Linked DNA regions of Homo sapiens. The protein of the gene in region 1 interacts with the protein of each later gene in a pairwise test. Each region holds a gene or a part of one and is shown in the gene's direction. Other genes may lie near its edges. The genes, in order: SORBS3, CCNL1 and SAFB2.

The links.
Region 2: the proteins of SORBS3 (region 1) and CCNL1 interact in binary tests that used the Homo sapiens proteins (3 or more experiments, as listed by UniProt).
Region 3: the proteins of SORBS3 (region 1) and SAFB2 interact in binary tests that used the Homo sapiens proteins (3 or more experiments, as listed by UniProt).

What each region holds. Positions count from the first base shown.
Region 1 is NC_000008.11:22,549,737-22,553,480, forward strand, and holds the start of SORBS3 (vinexin), read left to right. Parts: upstream 1-2,190; 5' UTR 2,191-2,286; intron 2,287-2,425; exon of another isoform or gene 2,426-3,744. UniProt on the Homo sapiens protein: Vinexin alpha isoform promotes up-regulation of actin stress fiber formation. Vinexin beta isoform plays a role in cell spreading and enhances the activation of JNK/SAPK in response to EGF stimulation by using its third SH3 domain.
Region 2 is NC_000003.12:157,158,648-157,162,391, reverse strand, and holds the start of CCNL1 (cyclin-L1), read left to right. Parts: upstream 1-2,244; 5' UTR 2,245-2,297; coding exon 2,298-2,600; intron 2,601-2,912; coding exon 2,913-2,987; intron 2,988-3,416; coding exon 3,417-3,526; intron 3,527-3,744. UniProt on the Homo sapiens protein: Involved in pre-mRNA splicing. Functions in association with cyclin-dependent kinases (CDKs). Inhibited by the CDK-specific inhibitor CDKN1A/p21. May play a role in the regulation of RNA polymerase II (pol II).
Region 3 is NC_000019.10:5,588,164-5,591,907, reverse strand, and holds part of SAFB2 (scaffold attachment factor B2), read left to right. Parts: intron 1-114; coding exon 115-160; intron 161-1,499; coding exon 1,500-1,630; intron 1,631-3,744. UniProt on the Homo sapiens protein: Binds to scaffold/matrix attachment region (S/MAR) DNA. Can function as an estrogen receptor corepressor and can also inhibit cell proliferation.

The sequences.
Region 1 (3,744 bases):
CCTCCTGCAAAGCTGTTTACTCAACGCCCGATTCCCATAGAGATGAAACTGGTAGCCAGTCCCCAGCTCCTTACCCATGGCTGCCACCTCCCTTTGTGAGAAACAGGAAGTGGGGAACTTTGTCAGCTCTGCTGCACCCTCTACACTAAATATTTATCTTGGAGTCCAGGTCAGAGCCCTAGAGAATAAGAGAAGCTTGCTGCTGGTGAGGGGGTATGGCCAGGATTCCTGGAGTCGGAAGAGCTTCAGCTTCACCATCTTGGGAGAAGAAGGAAGAAAGTGAAAGCGATGTGGTCCTTCTTAGTCCCAAGGACCCTGACAGGTGGGAAAAATGCGTGTCTAAGAAAATGGGCACCTATTTTATCCCTGAGGGAGGGAAGAGGCTACCTGGCGTGGATAAGAAGGTTTCTAAGCTTCAGGTTGGGGGGCAGTGCACTGCTGCGTCCCTCAAGAAGTGTCCCAGGGTTCCCCCACTGCTCAGCTGTCCTCCACAGCAATGCCCCTGCCATCCCCATCTCTCCGCCTTCCTGGAGAGTCAGAGGTTCTTGGAAGGAGTCTTCAAGGTCATCTTGTTCAGCTCCCCGCTCAGTGCAACAGTTGCCTTTACATAGATGCCCCACAACTGGCAGACTCAGAACCCCTGGAATCATGTAAAAATTTGTCCTGGGAAGCCTTGGACCTGCTTCCCTATGACGTGTCCCCCAGTGGTCCCACTGCTGCTGGTGCAGCTGTGTGTCCACATGGCAGCCCCGCAGGCGCTAGAGGCCAGCAGGCCTATCTGAAGCTTCTCAACCCAAACATCTCCTCCAGCTTTCACATGTGATGTTTCAAGGCAACGGGGAGAGCTTCTTTACCAGAACGAGGGAGAAGATAAGACTAAAGCAGTAATGGTGGTAGGGACTGAAAATCACTTAGTCTTTTCTCTACTCTCTTTCTTTCCAAACTTTGAGTTGAGTGGTGAGCTTGGAAAACACTCCAAAACTCCTCGTGGCCTCTGGCACCAGTCTGACACCCAGTAGGAATGCAGGAGATTACGTTAGTTTTCATAATTTAGCATTGATCACTCCCAGCTCGTAGCTAAAGTTGATCAGTAACTGTTGGTTGGTTGGCTGGTTTGGGGCTTGGGGATCCCTGAGCCAACTCAAGGGCCAGAAAGGATTCCAGAGTGTTTCCACGGTCCTTCAATGTTCCTTAAGCATTCCCACTTTCTGAAGTGCCATACAGAGGCTTGGGGCAGAGACAGGGAGAGGGGATGACCAGAATGGATGGGGAGCCGGAAGGGCCGGGGCTCTGGGGACCCAGCTCAGAGCAGCGAGAACAGCGGAAAAGCAGGCAGATCAAAACAAACACAGTGTCTGGGAACACCAAGACCCTCCTAATCCCATCCCCGCCAAAGGGACCCCACCCTTATCCTCTTTAGGGGCGCGGCACGCCCGGGGGGGCCGCTCCCTTGGGCTGATTTCCTCCCTGTGCTTGCACGTGTGTGAGCGTCCCCACGTTTGCAGTGTACGCGCGCGTGTTTGTTTGCACACGACCGGCCGCGCGCCGCCGCAGGCACACCCTCTCCCCCAGCGCGGAGGGGCGGCGGGGCCTTCCCCTGGTCCGCTCCGCCACTCTGCCTGCGGGGCGCCCTCATCTCGCTCCCGGCCTGTCCGTCTCTCCCGGCTTGCCCAGTTCACCACTCCTGCCCCCTTGTCCTGGCTCCGCCCGGTTCATCGCTCCTGCCCCTGTCCTGGCTCCGCTGCGAGGCCGCTCGCTTCCCACACTCTGGAAATGTCGCTGGAAACTCTGAGTGGCCCGTGTCGGGCCGCCCGACCCCTCCCCGACGCCAGCCCTGCGGTAGGGGCCGGGATGGCAGCTGGGAAACCAGAGAGGGCTCCCCGGGGACCCTCGGCGGCCCCTCCCGGCGCCGCCTCCCCGCCGGCCAGGCCTCCTCGGCAGGGGGCCACCAGTGTCCCCGCGCGCGCCCCGACGGACGGAGAGCACTCGCACGTCCCTCCTCTCCGGCCCAGCCCCGGCCCGCAGTCCAGATCCGAGACCCAAACTCCGCCCGCCCCGCCGCGCGACTCTCACGGTCCGGCCTCCGGCGCGCGCCCCTTCGGCCTCCCTCTTCCTGCGCCGGCGCCCGGCCCGGCCCGGCCCGTCCTGACCCGGTCACGAGGGCCGCGACGGCCCGCGCTTCTCCTTGCCCTTCCTCCTCGAGCGCCCGCGCCAGGCAGCAGCCGGGCAGGGATGCTCCTGCGCTCCCGGGCGGCCTCGGGCCCAGCCACCTGCTCGCCGGGGAAGGTAGGTCCGGGCAAGGAGGGGCGGGGAGTAGGCGAGGCCGGCGGGAGGGATCCGTGCCCAACCCCAGGGAATCGCACCTAGCCCCTCCCCGGGGTCCGCGTCCCAAACTCTGGGAAGTACCTCCCACCAGCCCTCATACCAGAAAAAGCGAAATTCAAGAAAAGCTGTCCTTGTCCACGTGGCCTTGTCGCTGAGAAATACCTGGGAAAGCTCTTAGGGCCAGGCACCCAAGGTCAGGGCAGTGTTCAGAGCAGGGAGGCCAGTGCCCACCCCAGCAGAGCCGCCTCCCCTCTCCCGCTCCAGGGGCCTCTCCCCGCTCCCGGGGCTGGCTGCCTGCCTGGAGGGGAGGTCTGAATTCTGGGAGGACCCCTCCGCTCTCTGCTACATGGGGGACCAGTCCCCAGATGCTGCCCTCTTCCTTGTAAGTCCTCCCTAAGTCTCCTGACCTGGCTGCCAAGAGAAGGACTCGGACCACCCTTCCCTGGAGGTTCCTGTGGTGGGGGGCGACACAAGGGGCAGGGTTGAGAAGGGGCAGATGGGGGCACCAAGGGTAAGCAACCTCTGACTACGGGTCGTGGGGGACCTCCTGCCCTACCCATCCTCCAAGAGAGCAGTTCTCACCGAGCACGAGGTGGGCGGGGAGGTCAGGGAAGGAAGGCGCTGTCAGCTGATGGCCCAGGCGGCAGCTGCTGAGCTGCAATTTGGCCCGAAGCAGTCAGCTGGGCAGGGAGGGGTGCTGCGAGGAGCCGACCAGCTCCAGGTCTCCTGACCTTCCACCCCACCCTGCCTCAACTCCCCCCCGCAAGGGGAGGTGGAGTGTGGGGACTGGGGTGTGTCTGCCTGTTTTGCTTTGGTGGGAGTCCTAATTGGACCCAGCTGGGGAGCTGCTCCTCCTCCAGCCTCAGCCCTCCACTCCCCCCAGTCAGGCATGGGCACAGAAGAGCTGTGTCGCAGCAACTCAAATGTCAGGAGTCCCCACAAACTCAAACCAGAGACAAGGAGCTGCCCCCAGCCTTGGCTACACCCTCGCTAGCCCTGGGCAGGAGCTGGGTCCAGGGGCTGAGTCATCCCAGCCTTATTCTACCTTCATCCCCTCTGGGCCCCCAACTCTTCCACTGCTCACATGACTGCACCTCCCACCACTGTTCAGCTGACACCCCTCTGTACCCACAACCCCCATGCAGCTCATGTGGTCCCTCCGGTGGTCCCCCCAGAAGTCATATTCGCAGCTCTGCACCCAGATTCCAACACACACATACACACAGCTCCTCCCGATGCATTTGCAGCCCTCCCTGAGAGCCCCCAAGGACCCCACAGGCACAGGCAAACCTGATTCCATCCAGTCCTGGGCAGTGGCAGAGCTTGGCTGTTTCTGGTCCAGTCCAGCAGCCAAGACGCGGAGGGATGGACGCCGTAGCACCGTGCTCTGGGTCAAAAAGCCCCCTTGGACACCCCAAA
Region 2 (3,744 bases), on another chromosome or scaffold:
CAGAAAACTGACCAGGCACAGTGGTGTGCCACTTATAGTCCCAGCTACTCAGGTGGCTGAGGTGGGAAGATCCCTTGAGTTCAGGAGTTCAAGGCCAGCCTGGGCAACACAGTGAGACCCTGGCTCTATAAACAAAAATGGAAGAAAACCAGAAAACTGGTGTCATCAATTGTGTTTAAGGAAACCGAGGCTCCTTTAAAAGTTTGTTATAAAATTATAGATATCTCATAAATATTGAGGTGGAAAGATTCCCTGGAAGCAGCCTAGTCAGAAAGTGAAGACAGTGACATCCAGATAGGTTAATACTTCTGCCAGCACCATAATTACACTCTCTTGGCTGTACATTCCAATCACTCGAAGACAGGCAAAACTGAACCACTGGCTGGGCCCACCTTAAATCAGTGACATCAACCTCTGCAGGCAAGGCTCAAGTATCAGTACATTTTAAAACAACTTTGCCCACTGAAGGTTCACTTAATCAACTGATAAGGCCGGGTGCGGTGGCTCATGCCTGTAATTCCAGCGCTTTGGATGCCTGTAATCCCAGCATTTTGGGAGGCCGAGGCGGGCGGATCACCTGAGGTCAGGAGTTCAAGACCAGCCTAGCCAACATGGCAAAACCCCGTCTCTACAAAAATACAAAAATTAGCTGGACGTGGTGGTGTGTGCCTGTAATCCCAGCTACTGGGGAGGCTGAGGTGGGAGAATCGCTTGAACCCCGGAGGCGGAGGCTGCAGTGAGCCGAGATCGCGCCACTGCACTTCAGCTTGGGCGACAGAGTGAGACTCTATCTAAAAAAAAAGAAAAAAAAAATCAACTGATAACAGGCGATTAACAGGAGAAAAGGGATACATAACACCGGGGTAAAAGCAGGAGGATGATTACCCAGTAGCTTAATGGAGTACAGAAGATTTTATATCTTTTTTTCATAGGGGAAAGGGTAGATGAGAAATGTAGACATTTATTTTGAGGAGCAGCAAATGATTATTAGGAACAATGAATGGACAGAAATTAGTAAATAATTTTCTTTTGAGTAATCTTGTGAAAAAGTCCCTCCAGGAATGGCTGCATTTCTGAGTCTTTTTGAAATAGGATACGAGATTTCAGCGAGGGGAGGAATGCGATTGATTCTTCTACAAAGAGGCTTCTCTAGTCAGGAAAGGAAATTTCAGAGAGTACCTCCCTGCACTTGGGAAAAGTGGGAGCAACAAGTCAAGGTTGGGGGACCTGCATTATGAGGCAGCTTCTAAAGCCTCTGTCTTTGGGGTATCGCTTTCTGAGCGTCAAGAGTAAAACGTGATGCATTCCTTTCCTTCCAACCTAGATTCTAGTAGTTTAGATCAGTATCATTGTTTTTACTTCAAGGTTCAGGAAACGCTGGAAATTGCTAGCTAATATCACAGGAAAAAAAACAAAAAACACGAGGTTGACCTCACCCTACCCGCGGTAGGTAACCATGTATGAATAGAGACTCCCAGGCATAATCAAATTACCTCTGTCAAGTCCTCGCCCTAAGACTATTTTTGGAAACTAGGGATTTTCCAGATTACTGAAAGCCGTGGCGGTGTCAAAGGCCGGGCAGGAGTTTCGCAAGCGGAGCTATGAAAGCAGCCACTCTCGCGGTCATTCCTATGCCTCCGCCCTACTTCCCCATACTGGCAAAAACACGCTCCCCGGGGAGCTTTCATTTGGGAACCGATAGGGTCCACAGCCCTGTGTTCTTCAAATACTGTAAAGCAGCCCTCTCCAGATTCCTTGAGGGTCACTTTATATTACACATTCGTCCACACAGGACAACAAAGTCACCACTTCCACCCGCCAAAGCGCGCTCAGGTCGGCCGCCACTTCCCTTGGTACACGCGGAACGCAAGCCGCGCCGAGGCTAAAGGAAGAGGCCGGAATGCAGGGCGAAGGGGCGCAGAGATGCTAGCCAATGCTGCCACCTCTATTTTGGGTATAAGGGATCTTGTAAAGCTCCGTTATTCGTGTGGCTATCACAAACAAGGTGGTTTCGACCGGCCTTGGCTAGAGAAGGCCTCCTCAGCCTCTGAGGATCCCAAGGTCTGTCGCAGCACCCAACACTCCCCTCGCAGGCCCAGATGCCGAGGGCGGAGGCGCGGCCTGGAGGGACTAGTTGGCGCGCGGCTGCCCGGCGTGGTGACGTCAGGGCGGAAGCGCACGCGGCGTGAAGCGGCCCAGAACCCGGCGGTCACGGGAATATCCGTCGCGCCGAGAACGCTGGTTAGTCTTGTTTCGGGTTCCGGCTGCGTTGGGCTTGCGTGCGGCTCGCTAAGACTATGGCGTCCGGGCCTCATTCGACAGCTACTGCTGCCGCAGCCGCCTCATCGGCCGCCCCAAGCGCGGGCGGCTCCAGCTCCGGGACGACGACCACGACGACGACCACGACGGGAGGGATCCTGATCGGCGATCGCCTGTACTCGGAAGTTTCACTTACCATCGACCACTCTCTGATTCCGGAGGAGAGGCTCTCGCCCACCCCATCCATGCAGGATGGGCTCGACCTGCCCAGTGAGACGGACTTACGCATCCTGGGCTGCGAGCTCATCCAGGCCGCCGGCATTCTCCTCCGGCTGCCGCAGGTCAGTGCTCCGGCCCCGGGCCGGCCGGGCGCTCCTCTCCTCTCCTCCGTCCCCTACGCCGCATCTCAGTATCACCGTGCCCCGGGAGGGTGGGGACGGTTCCTTCAGGCTTTCCCGTTCGGGGCCCAGCCGCGGCCGGGGCGTGCCGGGGCGGGGGGCTGCGGAGGCGGAGGGAGGACTTGGCAGCGGGCTGTTCGCAGCGGCGGCGGCGGCGGGAGGGGAAAGGGAAGCGATCGGCGGCACAAAATGGCGGCGGCGCCTGGAGCGGGCCCGCCTGACCCCTGCGCTTCCGTTCTCCTCTCTTGTCTGCAGGTGGCGATGGCAACGGGGCAGGTGTTGTTTCATCGTTTTTTCTACTCCAAATCTTTCGTCAAACACAGTTTCGAGGTAAGCACAGCGGAGGCGGGTAAAAGGGATTTCTTCATCCGGAAATGGGCAGAGTAGGGGTAGTGTCAGCAGCCAGCTTTTCCAGAAAGGGAGTGGTTTAGTTTAGGCCTTTGTACCTACTTCTCACTCGCCAGGAAGTGGAAACCTTTAGAATGTGGTTCAAAATCGATCACGAGCCTAAGTGCCCTCTTAACGAAAAGTACAGTTTTCAACCAAATGCAGAACTCCTGTAAGATTGAGTTTGACTCTGGAACCAAAATTAAGATGAGTTAAACAACAAAAAGTATAGTACTAGCATAGCTGGTAGACTTACGGCATAGAGATGTCTTCTCTAATTTTACTAAAGGTTGTCCCAATTGTGTTCTAAATTTTATTCTTCAAAGTGAGTTTAATCTAACAATGGCTTTTGTGGCTCATGGGTTCTTTCAGATTGTTGCTATGGCTTGTATTAATCTTGCATCAAAAATCGAAGAAGCACCTAGAAGAATAAGAGATGTGATTAATGTATTCCACCACCTCCGCCAGTTAAGAGGAAAAAGGTAAGATTGGCATTATTGAACATAGTATCTCTTGCTACTGCTGTACCGTGCACCAGTCATCAAATCAAAACATCTTTCCTTTCAAGTGAATACGGATGCAAAAGAAAACGGACTTTAATTTAGGTGTTAAAGTTCATATAGGAACACTGATACTTAAAATAATTTGAAAAAAGAAACATAATTAACCGGTTATCTAAAGTTTGTAGAGGCAGTTGCAT
Region 3 (3,744 bases), on another chromosome or scaffold:
TATAGTTTTTATGTGATGGGATGGAAAAAGTATCCCAGTCGCGAAACTTGCCTGACCTGCAGAAATGTGTAGTCGTGCCTGGTGCTGTTTGAACGGGATCTTTTCCTTTTGCAGGCGGGAGGGTTCGAGGCCAATGATGGGAGACCACCGGGATGGGCAGGTGAGTAGAGCCCCGATGCCAAGCCCTGGGGCCACTGTACTGCTGTGCAGGCATAGCGGACCATTTCTAGCCAGGCGGCCGCTTGATCCCAGAGAGGTGGCAACCAAGTCAGCACGTGTGGCGGGTATGCAAGTGTGGGTTCTGGCCAGCGACTAGAAGTACAAATATTTAGTCGGACGTGGTGGCTCATGCCTGTAATCCCAGCACTTTGGGAAGCTGAGGTGGGTGGATCACAAGGTCAGGAGTTCAAGACCAGCCTGGCCGACATGGTGAAACCCTGTCTCTACTAAAAATACAAAAAATTAGCCAGGCATGGTGGCGAGTGCCTGTAGTCCCAGCTACTCGGGAGGCTGAGGCAGGAGAATCGCTTGAACCCGGGAGGCGGAGGTTGCAGTGAGTCGAGGTCGCACCATTGCACTCCAGCCTGGGCAACAAGAGCAAGACTCCGTCTCAAAAAAAAAAAAAAAAAAAAAAAGCGCAAATATTTGATTGTTTTGTAATGCTCAAGTTTCTGTCATTTTCAAATATGTTGGGCTTGTTCTTCATTGTATCCGGTAGAAACCTCATGTGTCTCTTCATTGTCCACTTGCTCAGGGAGCCTTTGGGTCTTAGTGCCTGTGGGGTCCCCCAAGAACCCAAATGGTGGTTGTCGTTTAGCCCACATGTGCCAGGGTCGGGGGGATGGGGGAGCCCGGGCTTCCCCATGTTTCAAGTCCGTGCTTGGTGGGCACGGGGGGCTGAAGACCACAAGAATGGTCCCTGAGTCTCTGTGGTGCCATGCGGGTGCCCCGTGCGTGGTGGCAGGGTGTGAGTTCTGAGAAAGCAGCAGCCTGGTGGAGAGGTGGGAGGTGGGCGGCAGAGTAATGGCCTGTAACAGCAGGCAGCACCCGCCTGCTTCCTGGCTGCTGGCTGCTCCGTGCAGAGTTGGTTGGCCAGGGAGGCCGGAATTGTGGCCCTGCCAGAGCACAGGGGGGCTGACCCACCCGAGGGCCCTCCTGTTATCGGAAAGGAGGCGGCGCCCAACTTCTCAGGGAAGACAGGGTTTGGTGACGTCTTAGTGGATCTTGAGCAGAGCTGTTGAGGGCAGTAATGCCAGGGTGCCCTGGCTCCTGGGGCAGCTCAGGTGGGGCAGTGATGCAGCTGTAGGGGTGCGAGGAGGGGAGCCAGGGAGCAGAGGGTCAGTGAAGCAGGGCCCAGCAGGGCTGAGACTGCACCCTTCAGTCCTCTCTCAGCTCCGCCCCACCTGCCACCCTGGGGCCTGCAGTGGACAGGCCTTCCGGAAGGTGGGCCTATGTGGGTGACATGGTCAGTGTCACCCTGTTCCTCTCCTGCCTTCCAGCACTATGGAGATGACCGCCATGGCCACGGAGGACCCCCAGAGCGCCACGGCCGGGACTCCCGTGATGGCTGGGGGGGCTACGGCTCCGACAAGAGGCTGAGTGAAGGCCGGGGGCTGCCCCCTCCCCCCAGGTTAGTGGGTGAGCCCCAGCCGGGTGGGGAGCATCTGTCCTAACCTGGGAAAAGGTTGGTGCCTGGCCAGGCACGTCCCCAAGGTTTGATTCAGCTAGGGGAGCTTTAGGATGGGCTACCAGGGGTCCTGCCATTTGAAACCCCTGACTCAGAAAGTCCAGGTTCTCAAGAAGAAAGCATAGAACAGGCTTTCAGGGATGGAGCTGTCCAGGTCGCCCAGAATGGCCCATCCCCATTCTTGAGCTGGGGGTCGCCTGCAGTTGTGAATGTCTCGATCATGGGCTGCGTACACACTGGGAGAGACAGCGCTGAAGCTCTTAGTCCTGCCCCGTCCGTGGTAGAGCAGCCTCGCCCCTGCCTCCACGTTGCCTCTTGACACGTGTCTTCCTCGGGTTTTTTCTCTGACCCCCAGTTGGTCTGGGGTGGATCTTCTCAACCCTATCCTGCCTATTAGAATCACTTAGGAGGACCCTCCACCCAGGACTCAGGGCTGAGGACACTGGGCCAGGTCCTCCACAGGTGTCCAAAGCCACCTTCACCAGCACTGCAGTGGGGGTGCTGTTCTGAGCCTTGTCAGCATTGGTGGGGGGCAGGGCTTGTCTGGGAGGACTCTGGGTGCCTCTCTAGTTTCTTTGGCCAGCTGCAGTCACCCCTGCCTGTTTGTCCTGTTGCCGTCTGGGCTGGCCGTGAGGAGGCTGGTGGCAGGACTGCTTTGCGGCTGCTGCCCTGCTTTCCTCTGTGAGCCGAGTGTCCTGTCTTGTCTCCAGCCCTGGCCCAGGGCTGCCTCGGACCCTGCCCAGCGCCACAGGGTGGGTTTTGGCCCCCTGTGCTCCCCCGTTCCATCCCTCCCTCCGCGCTGAGAGGCACTTCCAGCTCTGCCAGGGACTTTGACTCGGTGCTGTGCCGAGTGTCCCAGGACACCCGAAGCTTCTCCTGAATCTCTGGGCAGCACAGACGGTGGCAGTGCTCTGATCAGTTGGTGTGAAGTGTTCTCTCCTGTGAGACTTCATTAGCATTCCTGTCCTGTCGCTTGCTGGGTGTTATGGTAAATACCTCGGGAGTGTAAACGGGAAACTCACCCATGGTGAGCAGCGGCTGGGCGCCATCGGGTCACCGAGGGCAGGTTCCACACGGGAGCTTTCCGCTCCCTCCAGGGCGGTATTGCACTTGCCTGGCAGTGCGCGCTGGGGGCTCTGGTGGCCCCTCTCGGGCCTGTGGGCTGGCTCACTTGGCCTGACTGTCACTGCATCCGGCAACCCACAGCAGGCAGGCACTCGTGCAGATGGGTCTGGCTGCTTTCCTGCACGGCCACTGTGACTGCTTGGCCACTTGGGACTCAGGACACTGGACTCGGATTTTCATCTCCCAGAGTTTGTCTGAAACTTTAAACAAATAGCTTTCTTTAAGTATAGTTCACACGACACACACTTCCCGTTTCACGTGTGCAGTCAGTGGAGGTTTGCGTGTACGTGGATCTGTTTAGCCATCCCCACGGCTGATTCTGAAGCATTTTCATCACGTCAAAAGAAACCCTGCCCCTTTTAGCAGCTGCACCCTCCCCCCTGCCCTTGGTAGCCACAGGTCCCTTTCTGGCTCTGGATTTGCCGTCTTGAGTCATTTCTTGGCCTGCGCGGTGTGCCTGCTGGGCCTGGCTTCTCCCTAAGCCTTGGGTATTCAGGGCTCATCTCCACATGCTGCCTGGGCCAGCGCTTCCTTCCTAGTTAGGGCTGAACATTCCATGGTCCAGACACACTACATAGTGTTATCTGCTCATCAGTTCATGGGTGTTGGGGTCCTTCTCCCTTTGGCTGTTAGGAATCCTGCCGCTAGGAACATTCATGCACAGATGTCTTTGGCCATGTTTTCATTTCTGGCAGGTAGGAATGGGTTTGCTGGGTCATGGTAATTCTGCGCTTAACTTTTTGAAGAACCACCAAACTTTTCCACAGTGGCCACACCATTTTACATTTCCACCAGCAGTGGACAAGGGTTCTTCCCTTTCCTCGCACCCTCCACGGTGTGTGTTATTGTGTGATTCTAGCATCCCAGCCAGGGGGAGGTAGCATCTCGGTGTGGCTCGGATTGGCATTTCTGGGTGGCGTTGAGCACCTTCT